Linked DNA regions of Homo sapiens. The protein of the gene in region 3 purifies or fractionates together with the protein of the main gene of each other region. This does not show direct contact. Each region holds a gene or a part of one and is shown on either strand. Other genes may lie near its edges.

Region 1 (3,500 bases), on a different chromosome or scaffold from region 3:
GCTTGCAGTGAGCTGAGATCACACCACTGCACTCCAGCCTGGGCGACAGAGTGAGACTCCGTCCCAAAAAAAAAAAAAAAAAAAAAAAGAAGGAAGCTGAAACAAAGACATTTTCAGACAAGTAAGAATTGAGAGGATTTGTCACTAGCAAACCCTCAGTAATATGGTTTGGCTGTGTCCCCAACCAAATCTCACCTTGAATTGTAATAATCCCCACATGTCAAGGGCAGAGCCAGGTGGAGATAACTGAATCATGGGGGTGGTTTCCCCCATACCGTTCTCCTGGTAGTGAATAAGTCTCACAAGATCTGATGGTTTTATAAATGGGAGTTCCCGTGCACAAGCTCTCTCTTGCCTGCTGCCATGAAAGACATGTCTTGCTTCCCCTTCACCTTCCACCATGATTGTGAGGCCTCTCCAGCCTTGTGGAACTGTGAGTCAATTAAACCTCTTTCCTTTATAAATTACCCAGTCTTGGGTACGTCTTTATTAGCAGCATGAGAACAGACTAATACATTCAGTAAAAAAATAATGCTGGGCCGGGCATGATGGCTTATATCTGTAATCTCAGCACTTTGGGAGGCCAGGGTGGGAGAATTACTTGAGGCCGGGAGTTCAAGACCAGCCTGGGCAACATAGCGAGACTGTCTCTTTATGTGAAGTAAAAAAAAAAAAGTTTTTAATTTAAAAAAATAATAATGCTAATAGGCATCTAACTGGGCAGAAGAAAATGATCTCAGATGAAAATGTAGTAATGCAGAACAAAACAAAGAACAATGGAAAAGATAAACATGTAAGCAAAGAAGAATGAATACGGACTGTTACAACAATAAAAATAATATCTAATGGGTTTTAATAATCTGTAGACCTAAAATGAATGACAATAATAACATAAAAGGTGTGAGGGGATAGATAAAATTAAAATGTTCCAAAGTACCTTATTACCTAGGATTGTATTTCCCCAAAATAAATTTAAACATATCCACAAATGACTTGCACATAAATAAATGTTCAGAGCAGCACTATTAGAGATAGCCAGAAACTAGAAAAAAACTCAAATGTCCATCTACGGTGAATGGATAAGCAAATTATGGTATATTTATACAACGGAATACTACTTATCAATAAAAATGAATGAACCACTGATAGGCTAAAAACTACAGATGACTCTCACAGACATTATGTTGAGAAATAGAAGCCAGATTCAAAAGAGTACATACTATACAATTCCATTTATATGAAGTTCTAGCCAAGCAAAACCCCAATGCATGATGCTAATGTCAGGACAATGGTTCCCTTTGCAAGCAATAGAAACTAGAAAAGGAGAGGAGGGGACCTCTGGGAGGTTGCCAGTGTTCTATTTCTTAATATAGTTGTTTACATGGATGTGGAAATTCATCAAGCTTCATCCTTAGAATTGTGCACATACATATACTTTTCTATATGAATTTCAAAAAGTTTTAACAAATATTTCAGTCATACAAAAAGTTATACAAAGGATAATAAGTCTATATCCACCACCGAGATTAAGAAACAAAACATTACCAATATAGGTGATATATATACTACTGATTACACCACCACCCACCCCACCAGAGATAAATCACTGTCCTGAATTTGGCGTCAACCACTCCCTTGCACTATTTTATACTTTTACTCTTTCTACAAGCTTCCCTAAATGATATGTAAAACTATTTTTCATGTTTTAAAACTATGCATAAAAAGTAATTTGATTTCTTTTTTTTTTCTTTTTTTTTTTTTTTTAAGACAGTGCCTCACTCTATTGCCCAGGCTAGAGTGCAGTGGTGTAATCTTGGCTCGCTGCAGCCTCAACCTCCTGGGCCAAAGTGATCCTCCCACCTCAGCTTCCCAAGTAATTGAGAACACAGGCATTTGCCACCATGCCTGGCTTTTTTGTTTCTTTTCTTTTCTTTTTTTTTTTTCCGTAGAGATGGGAGTCTCCCTGTGTTGCCCAGGCTGGTCTTGAACTCCAGGGCTCCAGCAATCCTCCAGCCTCAGCCTCCCAAAGTGCTGGGATTACAGTTGTGAGTCACCACATCTGGCTGGTAATTTGATTTCTATTTTTAAAAGATCATTCTTAAATTAGCACAAGGGAACTTTCTTGGATGACAAGATATTCTATATCTTGATTAGAACATTAGTCACATAGGTATATATATTTGTCAACATACAAATTGAATATTTAAGATCTGTGCATGCCATTATATGTAAATTATCTCACTTTAAAAAGTTTCTAAATAGACCATTCTTGCTTCTTCTTAGGGAATAGCTCGGGGCTGGACAGAAGTGGAACCAGGAAAGCCAATTAGAATATTGCAGTAAACCTGATGAGCATCAAAGTCATCTATCTAAAGCGCAAGGAAGAAAAGACAACTTATGGATACAATTCTTTGAGCAGCTTAACTGTGAAGCAGAGCCGTGGCTGGAGGAAGAAGTGAGGCCAGAGGCCAAAGAAGGGTTTTAAAAGATAGAAAACCAAACTTGACACAGTAGAAAGGAAAAGCTGAAGAAAGACCATCAATAAGCTGGGCCTGGTGGCTCACGCCTGTAATCCCAGCATTTTGGGAGGCCGAGGTGGGCGGATCAGTTGATGTCATGAGTTTGCCAACATGGCAAAACCCCGTGTCTACTAAAATTCAAAAATTAGCCGGGTGTGGTGGCGTGCACCTGTAATCCTAGGTATTTGCAGGGGCTCAGGCACGAGAATCACCTGAACCCAGGAGGCGGAGGGTGCAGTGAGCAGAGATGGCACCACTGCACTCCAGCCTGGGTAACAGAGTGAGATTCTGTCCCCCTCCACCTCACTCCCCCCAAAAAAACAACAAAACAATAACAACAAAAAAGACCATCCATGAAGAAACAATAAAGGAACAAAGACCTTGAGAAGGTGGGGAGATGGAATATAAAGTCCAAGTAGTTTGGTATTTGCTGGCTCACAATGTCTTTTTGCTTTTTAACTGGAAAGAAGTAAAAAGAAGGGTACACATGCAGGACAGATCAGATTGTTTGGTGGGGGAAAGATAAAAGTTCTCATCTGATGGCTGCTACTTTTTCAATGAATACAAATCATTTTCTGAAAAAGACGGGATGGGAGCTCTGAAGCCTGTGAAAAACAGTATGGCATTACATTAGAAAAGCATCCCGGTGTGATGGGGAGTGGTTAAGAAAAATGAAAGGTTCCATTTTAGACAGGCTAAATGCCCAACAGATATCCAAACTCTCCAAATACACAAAAGCCTGTAATGAGCACAAAAGCAACAATATTGTAATTAATCTTTGATTATGCTGCACAAAGCACAGTGTAACCTATATTAGGTACTCAAGAGGGAATGAACAAGGGAATGAAGATTTTTTTTTTACATATTTTCACAGCACATTTAATATCATCTGTCATATTCTACAACGGAATTGCAGAAAACATGCTTTTCAGAAATAATATATTTTCCTTTTTTCTCATTTTTAGTTCTCAGTGTTCTTGG
Region 2 (3,107 bases), on a different chromosome or scaffold from region 3:
ATGATTTTAAATCCTCCACCCCACCTCAGGTACCTGGACTACATCCATGTCATGACCTACGACCTCCATGGCTCCTGGGAGGGCTACACTGGAGAGAACAGCCCCCTCTACAAATACCCGACTGACACCGGCAGCAACGCCTACCTCAATGTGGTGAGTCCCTGTACAGATGCAAGAGCAGACCAGAGATGATGATGAAAATCACATAGAGATTCAGGCACAAAAGGCATCATAAGTTTAGTGGTTTTCTCAAATGGGAAATTAGGCTGCCATAATTAATTAAATATTCTCATTTAATTTCACACAGAGACTGGGACACAAAGTAAACATAAATTCTGCAAGTGTCTCACTTAAACAACTGTCCTCAAGTTGATCGTATTTCATTAACTACAACTTCACCAAAATGTTTTGAAAAAAATACTAATCCATCTGGAATTAACAGCATAGAGTTTTACCTGTCGGAATAGGGGACTAATATAACTAAGTACTGGGTCCTCAGCTGGTTGGGCCATGTAACTAACCCACTGACATTGCAGGATTATGTCATGAACTACTGGAAGGACAATGGAGCACCAGCTGAGAAGCTCATCGTTGGATTCCCTACCTATGGACACAACTTCATCCTGAGCAACCCCTCCAACACTGGAATTGGTGCCCCCACCTCTGGTGCTGGTCCTGCTGGGCCCTATGCCAAGGAGTCTGGGATCTGGGCTTACTACGAGGTATGTAGATTGGACTGAAAAGTGCTCTGTGAATTCCGTGCACTGTGCCTTAGGGCTAGAATCTGCTGAAATCTTGAATGTTCATTCTGTCTCCTACCTAAATGCTTTAAACACAGCTGCTTAAAGTGTTTAAATAGCATTCATTTACATAATCCAAATGAATAGCATTTAACAATGCATAATATCCCTTCACACAACAGACTACCTTTTAAATGTAATTTATATTAGCACACAGGTAATAAAATAAATATACCTCTCATATTACTGTGGGTTCCCAAAATCATTTGACAAGCAACTTGATCCTCTTTACTACAAATAAAAACCTGTAACTAGAAATTGAGCAAAACCCCAACTGGAGACATGAAAGAAGAAAAATTTGAAACATGTTTTTCTTTAATGGGAGTAACATTTAATAGATTTGAATCTCTTGACTTTTGAAAGATCTGTACCTTCCTGAAAAATGGAGCCACTCAGGGATGGGATGCCCCTCAGGAAGTGCCTTATGCCTATCAGGGCAATGTGTGGGTTGGCTATGACAACATCAAGAGCTTCGATATTAAGGTAAGATCAGTCCCTTAAATGTGCTGAGGTCCCAGCCCTGAGTCCCAGGAAAGCAAGTGATTCCTGTTATCCTCTTTCTTTAAACAGGCTCAATGGCTTAAGCACAACAAATTTGGAGGCGCCATGGTCTGGGCCATTGATCTGGATGACTTCACTGGCACTTTCTGCAACCAGGGCAAGTTTCCCCTAATCTCCACCCTGAAGAAGGCCCTCGGCCTGCAGAGTGCAAGTAAGTGACTGAGGGGGAATGCCCAGGTGTATAAATACCCCTTCTCCAACTCAAAAAGCAACCCTGATGTCTTCCCACCTCCCCCTTGCCCAGGGATCCTCTTTCCACTTCACCTCACCGCTCTTGCCCAGATGAGAGACAGGTTTTACCCTTGAACGGCCATGTCAGGAACATTGTGCACTTATGGGAAGCCAGGCCTAACTGGGTGGGTGTTCTAAGTCTGCTAAGTCTTAAGGGTGTGGAAGAGCCTCAAGAAATTATACTAACATCAATATAAGTATCTGCTTCTCTATGAATCCCTTATTCAAAATCTTTCTCAGCCCACCTGGGGAGATTTAAGAAACCCTCACCAATGCTCACATATCTCTAATCAGTGATTCAGGGGATGTATCAATTCTCTAAATTTTTTCCAGATTTTTCCTAGAATTTATTTGTTCACCATTTATGCCCAGATTCTAGAAAAGTGTTTTGCATACATTTGGTGGTTAGTAAATTTTTTTTTGAATGATTTAGATGTTATAAGGAAAGAGCAACCTTTTTTTACAATTAAAAGCCAGGCTGGCTTGACACAATAGCTTTATTTATCTCCTGAATATGGAGCTACTTTCTCTTCTCAGTTGCAGGGATCCAGAGCCAACTGCACCCCACCTCCACACTTCCACTCCCACAGTTCTCTTCACCTCTAGGTGAAGCTTAGAGCCTCTCCCAAGCCCACTAGTCTGCTCTTACTGCTGTATGTTTCAGGTTGCACGGCTCCAGCTCAGCCCATTGAGCCAATAACTGCTGCTCCCAGTGGCAGCGGGAACGGGAGCGGGAGTAGCAGCTCTGGAGGCAGCTCGGGAGGCAGTGGATTCTGTGCTGTCAGAGCCAACGGCCTCTACCCCGTGGCAAATAACAGAAATGCCTTCTGGCACTGCGTGAATGGAGTCACGTACCAGCAGAACTGCCAGGCCGGGCTTGTCTTCGACACCAGCTGTGATTGCTGCAACTGGGCATAAACCTGACCTGGTCTATATTCCCTAGAGTTCCAGTCTCTTTTGCTTAGGACATGTTGCCCCTACCTAAAGTCCTGCAATAAAATCAGCAGTCAAAACATGACTGTCCTTGCTTTTAAGTGATTTGGGTGGAAACCTCTTCCAGATATGAAAATAGGGGCTATGCATGGGGGTGGAGTGGTGGAGTAGAGTGTGAGAGGAAGTGGTGGAGCTAACAGCGCCACAGTCTTCTATCTGCCTGTGTTCATCTGCATGAAGGTTGGAAGCTGTAAGGAGGAAATGTCTGAATGTTTGGTGCATGGGAGGGATGAGGATATGAAGAGGATAGGTCTGTCACCAGGCAATTTTCCTCAGGAAGGAGCTGAAGTGCTTCTGTAAGACTGGGGGACATAAGCAGTGCTGCCTGGCTTGCTCAAGGAGTGGAAGACTGGGACATCCTCTCCACTTCTACTGAAGTGGACTGGCAGCTTCGGGAAGATTTGTGCAGTAGACTCCATTTAGGGTTTCTGCCTAGCCCATGGGCCAGCCAGGCTCCCTTTCTCAGGAGATGACACCTACCATTGGAATCGTAGTGGTGGCCACCAGCTGCTGTGCTTGTAT
Region 3 (5,619 bases):
TATTCCGTTTCCTGTAGCCATTACCAACAATTAACCAATTAAATGTGTCTAGAGTTGGCATATAGGTTAAGTTTTTGTCCAATTAAATTATCTAAGAAGTCTTGCTTAGCTCCAACTCTCTTATGACCACAACTTATCTTTTACAAAATACTTAATAAATTCAAAGCTACGTCTACACCAGATTCACCCCATGGCATGCACTGGAACAGAAGGAGTCATGCAGGGAAAAGCGCTCTGAAACCTCCAGGGCCCGCGCCGCTGCTCCTCACCAGAAGTGACCTCGTTGAAGGACAGTGCTTCCGAGGCCCGTCCTCCCAGGGCCATGCACATCCGCTCAAACAGCTGCTCCTTGGTGAAGAGGTGCTGGTCTCTGGGGAGCATCTGAGCAAAGCCCAGGGCGGCGTTTGTCCGAGGGGTTATGGAGACCTGGCACAAGGTCAAGATGACCCAGGTCAGTAGGCAGGATGCGTGGGCTTTGAGGAGGAAGGTGTGGGACTAAGAGGTCTCCGTCATTAAAGCGTCTCAAAGCAGGAAGGCAAATGTGCAGCATCCTCTACAACAACAGGGGATCCTAACACTCTAGATGGCCAGCCCAGAGACAGCAGCGTTCCCACCACAGGTGCCTGTTCACACACTGCCGGGAAGTGTCTTCTCATACATGACTAGACAGGCAGGGAGTCAAGAAGACAAGGCCCGTAGAAGACAGCTGAGAGGCGAAGGACAAGTTTCACCCCCGATGGCCGCTGCGCTGACCCCTCACACCAGCGACAGCTACTGAGGGTTCAGAGCAATGAGAACCCCACGATGCTGAGGCAGCAGAGGCTGTCCTCACCTCTGCTGCTCCCCCACAGCCCCACATCAGGTGTGCAAGGAGGTGGCGCGGGGCAACGAGCTAACTCGACAACACGGAACCGCTGAGTGGGAGACGGACGGAGACGGGGCAGGGGCTGGCCCAGCTGCTGCTTCTGAGAATTGTGGCGGCGAGATGGCCACATCCAAGTGCTCTGAGAATCCCGAGGACGCTTAATTTAAAATCTAAAACTAGGCTGGGCGGGGTCGCTCACATCTGTGATCTCGGTACTTTGGGAGTTAGAGGTGGGCAGATTGCATGAGCCCAGGAGTTCGAGACTAGCCTGGGCAACATAACGAGACCCCTTCGCTACAAAAAATATAAAAATCACTCGAGCCACCAGTGGGGCATGCCTGTAGTCCCAGCTATGCAGGAGGCTGAGGTAGGAGGATCGTGTGAGCCCGGAAGGTCGAGGCTGCAGTGAGCTGTGATCGCACCACTGGACTCCGGTCTGGGCAACAGAGAGAGAGACCCTGTCTCAAAACAAAAAGAAGCTCTAAATAACGGCTGCAGTGATGATTGCATTAATGACCAAAACCATAACAGCCAATTCACAACCTTTTCCTGGCAGGACACTGAGCCTTGGGAAAGAGACTCACTTTTTCATTGTGACTATCTGACTTTTGCCCATCAAATACAGTAAAAATTCTTTTTTTTTCCCTTTGAGAGACAGTCTTGCTCTGTCACCCAGGCTGGAGTACAGTGGCACAGTCTTGGCTCACTGCAGACTCTGCCTCCCGGGTTTAAGCGATTCTTGTGCCTCTACCTCTCAAGTGGCTAGGGTTACAGGTACGCACCACCACGCCCAGCTAATTCTTTTGTATTTTTGGTAGAGATGGGGTTTCACCAGGTTGGCCAGGCTGGTCTCGAACTCCTGACCTCAAGTGATCTGCCCGCCTTGGCCTCCCAAAGTCCCTGCATTAATTTTGATTTCTTGACATACCGTGTTAAAACGTCGTGTTCACTGCTGAGTTTTTTAGTGTCCCATAAATGGGACCCCCAGCTGAGTGTCCACTCGCCCCACAGTGGGCCTAGCTCTGGTCCCATGACTGTGGTGCACATCGCCAAGGAGCAGCACGGATCTGGTCCCCAAACGCTGCCTCAGCCCTGCTGAGACCCTGGGATGGGCAGGACGCTCTCTGATTAACACGCAACTTTGCTACAACTCACACCTGAGAACCAATCACGGAGACCAGCACTGACAAACCAAGCTGGCAACTGCTACAGCGTATGCATTGTTTGCAGTGAACCCTGAGGTAGGAACACAGCACTGCCGCCTTCTCAGGTGAGCCTCAAACCTGCACGGCTTCCTGGGGCTCCACTGTAAAGACGGCACCTGCGTTCCGAGTAGAGACCTCCTCTTGGCAGCACTCGGACTCCCGGTGGTGGAGCCACGTCTTAGAGAAGCTGTAACATCACCATTTGGTAAGAATAAATGTCCATCGAGTTCACAGCTGCCTACAAGAGTAGTTTTTTGTTTGTTTGTTTGAAGTAGAGACAGTTTTGCCCTGTTGGCCAGGCTGGTCTTGAACTCCTGACCTCAGGTGATCCACCATGCCCAGCCTAGAATAGTATTTTTTAAATGTACACTCAACTCACTTCTTTCCAATGTTAGGAGTCATTTGGGGTGGACAGGCAAAGGCAGCGAAACCCCATTGCATGGTGTAACCTTCCACGAGTCACCCCAGTAGCAGCACCATGCTCCGATGTGACACAGCCCACTCCTGCCTCCCACGTCCGAGTTCCCGCCCATCAGTCGCCACCCACCCTGCTCCATGGATCATGACAGTGGCAGGCTTTCCTCTCACATGACCTACAGACACAGGCGGGACTCCCCAGTCAGCTACAGACACAGGCGGGACTCCCCAGTCAGCTACAGACACAGGCGGGACTCCCCACCCACCTTTGGCCAAGGCCCGTGGAGCCGGCACCTGCCAAGACCCACCTTCATCACGGCCTCCGTGTGCTCCAGCATCCAGCCCACCAAGGCGTGGCCCGACTCATGAAACGCAACCACTTTCTGTTCTTCCTTGGACAGGATCTTGCTCTTTTTGGCAGTCCCTGAAAGAATGCCGGGGTATGAGTTGGGCGCGGTGGCTCACGCCTGTAATCCCAGCGCTGTGGGAGGCCAAGGCGGGCGGATGACCTGAGGACAGGAGTTCGAGACCAGCCCGACCAATATGGTGAAACCCCGTCCCTACTAAAAATAGAAAAATTAGCTAGGTGTGATGGCGGGCGCCTGCAGTCCCAGCTACTTGGGAGGCTGAGGCAAGAGAATCACTTGAACCTGAGAGACGGAGGTTACAGTAGGGCAAGATCATGCCACTGCACTCCAGGCTGGGCGACAGAGCAAGACTCCGTCTCAAAAAACAAACAAAAAAGAATGACGGGGGGGTGAGCTGAGACCCCGGCCTCTCCCTGGCTGGGCCCTGCTCCTGCCCCGTGTGGTCAAAGCAAGCCTCTCTCTGCACATCTGCCTCTTGGAGCTGCAGCTGCGGCTCTGGACACCCCAACTCAAAACGACACTCTTCAGGTCAAAGGGCTGTTGAAGGAGGTCGTGATTTCTTCTTTTATAAATGTTGCAATCATCGAAATAGCTCCTGCTGCTTTTAGGAACAAGTGCAACCCTCTGAGGAGTGTCTCCTCCTGCCCCATGGTTGGGGGGGTGCCACAGGGTCGGGGCAAGGGTCACAGAACAGCAGCTTTTGACTTTCTCCCTGGCAGGATGGGCAGAGGCCTCCTCTGAGTTACGGGCCTCCTGCTTACTTTCCCTCTCCCCTCAGACCTGGAGGCGCAGCTCCCATCCCCATCACTTTCTGGATCCTTATGGCTTCTACTCACCCCTTCAGAAGCTTTTTGCCTCAGGGACAAGGCTTTTTTTCTGTCAGTGACAGGGTCTCACTCTGTTGCCCAGGCTGGAGGGCAGTGGTGCGATCACGGCTCACTGTTGCTTCAACCTCCCAGGTTCAAGCAATCCTCCTGCTGCAGCCTCCTGAGTAGCTGAGACCAGAGGTGTGCTCCACCACCATGCCTGGCTAATACTCTTTATTCTTTTCTTTTAAGAGATGGGGTCTTGCTGTATTGCCCAGGCTGGTCTCAAACTCCTGGCCTCAAGCAACCCTCCTGCCTCAGCCCCCAAAGTGCTGGGATTACAGGCATGAGCCACAGTGCCCAGCCAGGGACAAATGTTTGCATTAAATCTCCCCTGTTCAGCTTACTGGTGAGGCTTCATTTCCTGTCTCAGATTTTCCACACATCTGTAAGTGTCCATTCTGTACAACTTGAATCAGCTCGTGGTCCTGAGCACTCAAGTACGTCATGTATTTTCTTTCAACTGGCTTGTGGTTCCCACTCAGTCCTTCCTGCTTTGCTACTATTATCAAAAGCTTTTCGATTTCCACATAAAAGTAAATGGTTACACGAAAATAAATTTCAGTAAGACACAGGCAGCGCCAGTCCTCTCGACCCGCAGGGCTGTCGGAGAGAAGCCAGGTGTGTTTTGCAGTGTCTGGCACAGCAGCTGCCCCACTCCTCTGCAGGAACCCACTGCTTTCCCAAGCTGAAGCCCTGGGGACCTGCAAGAGGCGTGTTCGTGCTAGGAATTCACTCGAATTGAGGGTGAGGAACTCGGTTCTCGCAGGGATAGCTCGCAAAGGAGGCTCGTGCTCCTCAAACACCTGGGGCAAGAACCACTTCCCTTTTCAAACGTTCAACCTGTCTCACACTGACAGTGCGGGTCTGAACTCCATTCCATGAGATGACTGATCACGTCTGGGTGTTGCCATCATAGCTATGGAAACCTCCAGCAGCTCCGATTCCCAGTTTGGTCCTCTCTCCTCACAGACGTCGCAGACCCCACACTGAGCAGCCACGGAACGGCAGTCAGAGGCGGTCAGCCCACCGGTCACCCGTCACCAAAACTCATCTCCCGTTCCTACTGACGGTCGGGACCATGAGTTTCACCAGAGGTGGTGCTGCAGATCCACACCTCTCCGCAGAGCCCCTGCTGCGCTGAAAGCACGGCTGTCCCTCCACAGCCACGGGCGGCAGCAGCCCTCCGGCCCACAGTCAGCGGCTGGAGCTCAGCCCCCATGAGGCTGGGGCTAGGCTGAGCCCACCACACCCAGGCTGGCAAGACATTTTTAGTTTTTATTATTTTTATTTTTGGGGGGCATTTTTTATTTTTATTTTTTCACTTTCTTTGGCAAGGCATTTTTTATTTCTGTTGGACGAGCGTCTACTCTTAGGTAAATCTGTGATATTTTAAACTAAGGAAAAGTACAAGGTATCATAAAGACATGAGTTACGCAGAACTGAAACGCAACGTGTGTTCCTTCCTGTGTGATGGTTCCATCCACCTCACCTCTCAATACCTGCCTGGGTATTTCTGGGGTTCAAGCCCTGCTAAGGAGGGCCTTCACCCAGGGCGCGCCCCCTGTACCTGCGAGGACGCGCTCCACGGCGTACTCGAAGTTGAGAGTGTGCACGGAAGTGTGTCCCTCCCGCGCCGCGTGCAGCGCAGCCTCATTGCAGATGTTGGCGATGTCAGCCCCTGTCAACACAAACAGCCACGGTGTGGGTGGGTGGGTTTCTGCTATCAGGGCTTAAGAGGAGGAAGGGGCCCTCAAGGGAGAACAAAGATGGCCGGGCATGGTGGCTCACCCCTGTAATCCCAGCACTTTGGGAGGCTGAGGTGGGCAGATCACCTGAGGTCAGGAGTTTGAGACCAGCCTGGCCAACAGGGTGAAACCCTATTGCTACTAAAAATA

Evidence for each region.
Region 1: the proteins of SPG7 (region 3) and HTR7 purify together in Homo sapiens (tandem affinity purification; one large-scale study listed by IntAct). This does not show direct contact.
Region 2: the proteins of SPG7 (region 3) and CHIA purify together in Homo sapiens (co-immunoprecipitation; one large-scale study listed by IntAct). This does not show direct contact.

Annotation. Positions count from the first base shown.
Region 1 is NC_000010.11:90,851,540-90,855,039, forward strand, and holds part of HTR7 (5-hydroxytryptamine receptor 7), read right to left. Parts: intron 1-3,500. UniProt on the Homo sapiens protein: G-protein coupled receptor for 5-hydroxytryptamine (serotonin), a biogenic hormone that functions as a neurotransmitter, a hormone and a mitogen.
Region 2 is NC_000001.11:111,317,957-111,321,063, forward strand, and holds the end of CHIA (acidic mammalian chitinase isoform c precursor), read left to right. Parts: intron 1-29; coding exon 30-153; intron 154-536; coding exon 537-722; intron 723-1,163; coding exon 1,164-1,283; intron 1,284-1,370; coding exon 1,371-1,512; intron 1,513-2,256; coding exon 2,257-2,510; 3' UTR 2,511-2,607; downstream 2,608-3,107.
Region 3 is NC_000016.10:89,547,786-89,553,404, reverse strand, and holds part of SPG7 (mitochondrial inner membrane m-AAA protease component paraplegin isoform 1 precursor), read right to left. Parts: intron 5,403-5,619; coding exon 5,292-5,402; intron 4,711-5,291; coding exon of another isoform or gene 4,688-4,710; exon of another isoform or gene 4,623-4,687; intron 2,912-4,622; coding exon 2,796-2,911; intron 427-2,795; coding exon 270-426; intron 1-269. UniProt on the Homo sapiens protein: Catalytic component of the m-AAA protease, a protease that plays a key role in proteostasis of inner mitochondrial membrane proteins, and which is essential for axonal and neuron development.